Homo sapiens: one gene and its partner. The protein of the gene in region 1 interacts with the protein of each later gene in a pairwise test. Each region holds a gene or a part of one and is shown on either strand. Other genes may lie near its edges. The genes, in order: MFSD6 and TMPRSS2.

What was found.
Region 2: the proteins of MFSD6 (region 1) and TMPRSS2 interact in binary tests that used the Homo sapiens proteins (3 or more experiments, as listed by UniProt).

Annotation. Positions count from the first base shown.
Region 1 is NC_000002.12:190,488,262-190,492,080, forward strand, and holds part of MFSD6 (major facilitator superfamily domain-containing protein 6), read left to right. Parts: intron 1-395; coding exon 396-557; intron 558-1,506; coding exon 1,507-1,605; intron 1,606-2,352; exon of another isoform or gene 2,353-2,557; coding exon of another isoform or gene 2,558-2,576; intron 2,577-3,819.
Region 2 is NC_000021.9:41,501,544-41,505,362, reverse strand, and holds part of TMPRSS2 (transmembrane protease serine 2), read left to right. Parts: intron 1-3,819. UniProt on the Homo sapiens protein: Plasma membrane-anchored serine protease that cleaves at arginine residues. Participates in proteolytic cascades of relevance for the normal physiologic function of the prostate.

The DNA of each region.
Region 1 (3,819 bases):
TCAAAGTAGCAGAAGGAAACAACAAATGTCTATTCACAGATGAAAAGATGAACAAAATGAATGGGAGTCACATTCAAGAGACAGGAAGTAGAATGGTGGTTGTCAGGGGATGGGACAAGGGGTGAGTGTAAGTTATGGTTTAAGGGGTACAGAATTTTTGTTGTGGTGGTGAAAAAGTTCTGGAGATGGATGGTGGTGACAGCTGCACAACACTGTGAGTGTACTCAGTGCCACTGAACCGTACATTTAAAAATGTGAAAATGGTAAATTTTTAATGTATGTTTTCCCACAACAAATCTTAAAAATAGGTGCCTAGTTAAATAATTCACATTTCAAAACAGAGTAGCCTAAGAAATGCTAACCAACTAATCCCTCCTGCTCTTCTTCCTCTCCAGGAGTGACACACGCGGCCATCTGGGCAGCATGCATTTCTTACCTCAGTGCAGCCGTTCCCCCTGAGCTGAGGACATCTGCTCAGGGCATCCTGCAGGGCCTTCACCTGGGTTTGGGAAGAGGATGTGGTGCCATGATCGGAGGCGTGTTAGTCAATTATTTTGGTAAGAATGGCTTTCTCCTTTTTTTTCTTTTCTATTATTAAAACATGATTTTTTCCAGCAATACCTCAATAAACAATCCAATTATTACTGAAGATTGCCCAAAGCTAAATTCCAGTATTCATAATCTCTTTCTAGATTTCATGGTAGTCATAATTGTAAAGCAGTGTGCTTACGTTGTTAAGCTGATCTGAGCCAGCCTGTAACTGTGCACACTCCTCTGACAATCAGCTTAATGAGATGCTACAGAGATCCCTCAAAGGAGCCAAACAAATGAATTAGCATGAGTGCTTTTGGTCTAAAATAAGGTACCTTAAACCTGCTGATAATAACCCTAAAGGAAATAAAATTCATCATTGTTATTCCATTAGGAGATTTTGAACCAGAAGAATCTAACCATATGCTGGCTTTGGTAATGCTACTACATTTATGGTAACAATATCTGTCTGTCTTGTCATATCTTCCTTATTAGAAACATAGGAGCTGAAATAGGAATGAGATTATTCTGCTCCAGGAATCTTAACTACTCAGTCATCTATTAATATATAAGGTGGGCCCCAGGAAATGCGTGCATTTATAGCACTATTTGAGCACTGCTGTTCCAACTACAGATTAATAGTGCTGTTAGTTAATAATTGGGTAAATGGTCTTTTCATATGAAGAGGAGAGCACCATTGAATTGTATGAGTCATGGTGAAAGGCACTGAGAGATAATCCTATATAAATGCAGTTTTATAATCGATCAATGACAGATCCAATATCAGCCCTGGGTCTCTTGACACGTACCCAGCCCTGTGTTTTTCCATTATGTGGAGCTAATACCCAACTACTTTTCTCTGGTTTGTCTCAAGCTGTGCTTCCTTTGCTTTGATCTTTAGAAAACTGATGGTTTTAGATGAGCGCTATCTGCATTTCTTGGAATTACTCTATAGAGTGCTGTTTGTTTTTATAGGGGCTGCTGCAACCTTCCGAGGAATTGGCATGGCCTGCTTGGTGATCCTACTGCTCTTTGCCCTGATCCAGTGGCTGGCAGTGCCAGATGAGGAAGAAGGTAATTATTTCCATTCTTTCTTAATATTCCTAACAGTTCAGGCCATGGGAAGTCAACAAATGCCCCGAGAAGCCTAGAAGTGGTACAGAGTATACAACAGGTCTGTTTGGCTCAATTTTCTGAGTGGCGTATCGATGAATTCATGTGGACTATTGTTAAAGAGATCCACCTACTATGCAGAAAAAATATTGTTTTAAGTAGCTTGGGGTTTTCTTGTTTTTTGTTTGTTTGTTTTCTTTTATAATACAAGGTACTAGGGAAGTATTAGTTTTCAATTTCTCTGGTATTCTAAAGGTTTTTCAAATTTAAGTCAAATACATATAAGGCTATACAGTCATTTTGCTACTAGGGATAGGGAGTGAGTGGTAATCTTCTCTATGACTTACCTTCATTTGTTAAAAAAAAAAAAAACAATGGCCGGGTGCAGTGGCTCACGCCTGTAATCCCAACACTTTGGGAGGCCGAGGCGGGTGGATCACGAGGTTAGGAGATCAAGACCATCTTGGCTAACACGGTGAAACCCCATCTCTACTAAAAATATAAAAAATTAGCCGGGCACGGTGGTGGGCGCCTGTAATCCCAGCTACTCAGGAGGCTGAGGCAGGAGAATGGCGTGAACCCAGGAGGTGGAGCTTGCAGTGAGCCGAGATAGCACCACTGCAGTCCAGCCTGGGGGAACGAGCAAGACTCCCTCTCAAAAAAAAAACAAAAAACAAAGACAAAAATGTCAAGACCTGAAATCTGAAGTTTTCTCTGAACCAGGGATGCCTTTATTAAGATTGTTCTACCAAAAGGAGGTTATATCAAATATTAATATGTAGATGAGAATGAGCTGACTCAACTTTTTATGAAAAAGGTCAACCAGGAGGATGAAAATATTTTTGCTCAGTTTTTTGGTCCCAGAACAGAGCTCATCTTCTTTGGGTGTCCTATCCTTTGCGGAGCATTAGCCTCAGGCCCCTGAAATGCTTCTGTGAAGAGAAAAACTTGCTTGTTACAGAAGCCTCAGAGACAGATTTTAATCTCAATGAGTTACTCAGAAAGAGCAATACTGTTTTTTCTTACTTTTGTTCTTTTATAATCCTAAATGGATTCTCTCTCTTACACAGCCTCAGTCCATGCCTCATGTAAAAGACCAATAAAAATAACTATCATGGCTCTCCCAAAGTTATAAGATGTAGTTAAAGTTGTATTTTGAGAAAAATGTATGGACTTGAATATCTTTGCTATTAATCACAAAAAAATTTAAAATCATTAATTAAACATTCAATGTAAGAAACATAAAAATAAGCAATCAAATTTTAACTCATCTTTGATTAGTGAGAATATGGTACTGGGTTAGTTTTTAAAATACTTGTGTTCTGGAGAGACTGTTATTGGGAAAATGGCAAGATAGGAGGCAGGATTAGGTTGCAGCTCACACTCAGGTGGACCGAGTAGCATGTGGAGACTTGCATCATGCTTTTGCTCCAGAACTACTGCAGGAATATACCAGGAAAGCTGAGAGAATACACAGACCCTCTGAAGGAAGCATATTGCTCCTGGAGGACCTGAGAGACAGGCCAAATATTGGGCTGGTATCCAGCTGAGAGACCTAAAGATGGTTCACATCACAGGACTCTATGCAGACAACCCCAGTACCAGCCTGGAGCCTGGTAGCCCTGCTGGGTGGGCTAGATCCAGAAGAGAAATGACAATCACTACAGCCTGGCTGTCAGGAAGCCACATCCCTCAGAAAACAGGGAGAGTACTACATCAAGGGAACACCCTGTGGGACAAAAGAATTGAACAGCAGCCTTGAGTGCCAGCCCTTCCCTCTGCCATAGCCTACCCAAATGAGAAGGAACCAGAACAACAATTCTAGTAATATGACAAAACAAGGTTCTTTAACCTGCCCCAACAAAATCACACTAGCACCAGCAATAGATCCAAACCAAGAAGAAATCTCTGACTTCCCTGAAAAAGAATTCAGAAGGTCCATTATTAAGTTAATCAAGGAGGCACTAGAGAAAGGTGAAGTCCAATTTAAGGAAATCAAAAAAATGATACAAGAAGTGAGGGGAGAAATCTTCAATGAGATAGATAGCATAAATAAGAAACAGTTACAACTTCAGGAAATAAAGGACACACTTACAGAAATGCAAAATGTTCTGGAAAGTCTCAGCAACAGAATCGAAGAAGCAGAAGAAAGAACTTCAGAGCTCAAAGACAAGG
Region 2 (3,819 bases), on another chromosome or scaffold:
TTTCCACCTGAATCTGCGGCAAGATTCCCTAGGGGATCTTCGTAATAATATGGGATCATTGCCTTGGTCCCAATTATTACATCAGACTCTGAGAATGGGGCCCAGGCATCTTATTTATTTATTTATTTTTCTAAGCCCTCTTGAAAATTCTGGGTTTGGGGAGCACTGATCAGATCTAAGCCTTGGACATTGAGGTAGAAAGGAAAGGTGAATGGTCAATGGAGTGCTTGTTCAGTTTTGGTTGCTGAAGACTTGGAAAGTGGCCTTGCTAGTGGGGAGAGTGAGGGCAGGGAGAGCTCCCTGTGGGGAACCAGAGAGCCCAGGAGCATTGAAGGCCCAGGTGCATTTCTGCTCTCTGGTCCCTCCTGCTCTGCACTCCCTGAGTGTCCCTCATCCCACAGTCACCAGGCCTTTGCTACTCTTCCCCGCCCCTCCTTACTTTCCAGGACACCTGCCAGGGGATCCTCCAATATGGGATGCACTGCGTGGCCTCAGGATTGGGGTGCAGGAGCATTATGTACCTGAGAGCTGAGGCCTGTATGGAGTCAGCCTTTGTGGGGCCCCTCCTGGCCCTAAGGGTGATTTGGGAAGCCCTGACTTGCAAGCACCAGGGGTATGGGCCTGGGTGTGAAGAAGGGGGCTTATGATGTCCCCATGGCCATTGACCACCTTGGCCCCACCGAGCCTGTGGACACCCAAGGAGGAGCAAAAGGGGGATCTGTGACAGGGTAGCAGCTTGGTTGAGCACACAGGCAGCTCTTCAGCATGACCTAGAACAGAGGCTGGGCTCCAGGAGGAGGCAGAGCCTGATCTGGGACTTGGTTATTCCTGGTTGCTGAGCAATGGTCAGGAGAGAGGAACTGAATGAGTGGAAATGCGCTGGTTGGGAGTCGAGGCTGGTTTTCTGGCAGGGGTGTGGGTGGTTACTTTTGTTGTAAACAGAGTGAAGTTTGAGAGGGCAGGAAACTCGAAGACAGGCTTTTCATCCTCCTGGAGGTGAGTCTGGGAGAGGGAGGTGAGGGCTCTGACATCTATGTGTGGATGGCGCTGAGCCATTGGGCATCCATGGCAGGAGGGCAGGAGGAGTTTAGGGCACAGAGTTGTGGTAAGAAAGCAGGAAGTGTTTGAAGGGCACCTTGGCTTGTGGTTGTGGCAGCAGAAGTCTGGAAGTTCACTCAAGGGCAGACTAGGTGGAAAAATCGGGGCTGTCAAGTGGGACTCAGAATGAGAGGTTGTGACAATTGGATTTGTTAGAAAAATATTTTCAAGCGAGGTCTGACTTGGCAGATGGAACTAAGCTGAGGCTTTTTATTATTGCTTGTTTGTACGAGGTGCACAATGCAGTGTCAAATTCCCTTTAAGGCCATTGCTTTCCAAGGGGCTGTCCTGGCGGGGCACTCAGCCTGACCCCACTGCAGTATAGCCCAGGGGTCATGGGAGACCATGCTTTCTAGGGACGATGGGCTTGGAGTTCTTTGTGCAAGATACTGATAACAGAGAATTTGCTGACATTTTCAAGTTCACTGGTGATGATGCATTTATAAGGAGTTGGGAGTAATATGAAAGATCACTATGTCTGGTCTTGATGCTCAAGCCTAATTCTGTTCTGGAATATGTTGGAGAAATGATCCTCCAGTCTTGAAACATACATTTTTAGGTTTGAGGAATTCGGTACATTCTAAGGTAGCTCCAGGCCATATGTGAACTTTCTAATTGTTGGAACCTTGATTTCCCCAGATAGAATCCAAGCCTGCTCTTCTGGAAATTCTGATCATGATTCTGGTATTGTCCTTTGGATGTATGCAGAATAAACTGAATTCCTTTTCCACATAGCCGGCTCTTACGTGTTGGAAGATAAACCTTATCTGCCATCATTATGTTATTATTGAGTGCTCACCATGGGTTGGGCACTGAGCTACGGCCTTGCTTTCTCACTTAATCCCTGCAACAACCCTATTTCTGTATCATCCCCATTTTACAGATTGACTTGGACAAGTTCTTTAAGCCTCAGCCAGTGGCTTGTGTGTGGTGTTGAAGTCTCCGCCTGGAGTGACCTGAGGGCCTCTGCCGCCTGCCTGCCTGTCATGCCAGGTTGCACTCAGCTTGAGGCACCTGGACTCCTGGGAGGTCACCCACTGTCCTGACTTGGGCTGCTGGTGTTGTCTGGGTGTGGGCATCTTATCGCCCTCTGCTAAATTTCATCTTACTCATTTGGCCTTTGGAACTCAAAAAATATATATTTTTTCCTGCAAATTGCATTGTATTTCAAATTTACATTTCCGATCGTCTGTTGTTGGTATATAAAAACACATAGATTTTTATATTGATCTTGTATCCCTCAACTTTGCCAAACATGCTTATTAATTTTTCCCCAATAGTTTTTGGGGTACAGGTGGTAAGAACTCCATAAAAACATTTAAATACTGTCTTTGTAAGCTACAAAGTGAGATTTAAAAAACAAACAGAAAGAGAGAGAACCAGACCTGATATCTGCCCTAAAAAGTTTGTAATCTCTTTGGGACAATGAGTCATTCACAGGAAAAGAAACTTGGATGATGCAGGCAATACCTCTCCTAAGGTGATCTTTCTGTTTCTCGCTCAACCTTTCTCTCTCAGTAGAACTCTTGTGCCAATCATTGTGTATGCAATTTACCTGATTATACATAAACAAGTTTCTGCTGAACAGCCACTGAAATCCACTGTTGGCTAACTCATTTAGTCATGCATTCTATCCTTAGGAGGATAGAACATCTCGTTGTATAATGTGATATTAGTGCGGTTATTTTGGCATAAAGGGCTCTTTTTGATGATTTGGTCATTGGCTGGGATGTGTCCGTGGATGGTGGTGGTGGTGCTGTCTGGATTTTGAAGAAGGGGCACTGAGTCTGAGGCTGTCTGTTCCCTCTCACACCTCCAGCAACTCGAACCGTACCAGTCACAGGTGGGGGCTTCGAGAAGGAGAAGGTGTGTGCACAATGGTGCACGGTGAGGTCAGTGGAGACTTCATTGCAGAGAATACCCCTGGATCTTGGGTGGGAGTCAGTGTCTACAAGCCTAACTTCATTCGCGTTGGCTTGGTTGTTTGGAAAGTAAGTCTCCAGTAAACGTGTCCTGAGATCTCCAGAGGAGAGAAACTAGGAGAAAAGATTCTTGTTTTGGCAGTAACTTCATCATGTCATGGGATGCGGATACGATGCCACAGCATCGTCCTGCTGCATGGTGGCCAGGCAGGTGACTCATGGGCTGACTCAGCTCTCAGTCCAGGATGGACCAAAACAGTGCGAGGACAGCTGTGTGCCATTGTGAGATTCAAGTGGGTGACACTGTCTGTATTGAAGGAAGAGCTCCCTGCCAGCCAGGAATGGAGCCTGAGTGCCACCCACTGTTGCTCTTTCACACTTAAAGGAAAATTTCCCCAAGTGCTCATGGTGGCTGGCTTTCCAGAATTGAGAGCCATCATCCCGGTCCTTTAAATGACAGGAGCAAGCATTCGCTAAACAGCATTGTCTCTCGCCATCTACTTTACGTCTTGCTCCTTTCAGAAATGAGTTAATGCGATGTACAAGCTTGTGTGAATGAGGAAATGCCTGTTTTGAAGATGAACAGGACTGAATGTGATTTCCTGGTCTTTTCGGGACAGCAGTGCTTCCCCTTGCAGATCTAATGTCAGAGCGGGACATTCCCCCCCTTGTTTTATTTTCAATTGGAGAATGTTGTTGTTGTTTCTTTTTTTTTTTTTTTTTTTTTTTTTTTTGAGACAGAGTCTCTCTCTGTCACCCAGGCTGGAGTGCAGTGGCCTAATCTTGGCTGACTGCAACC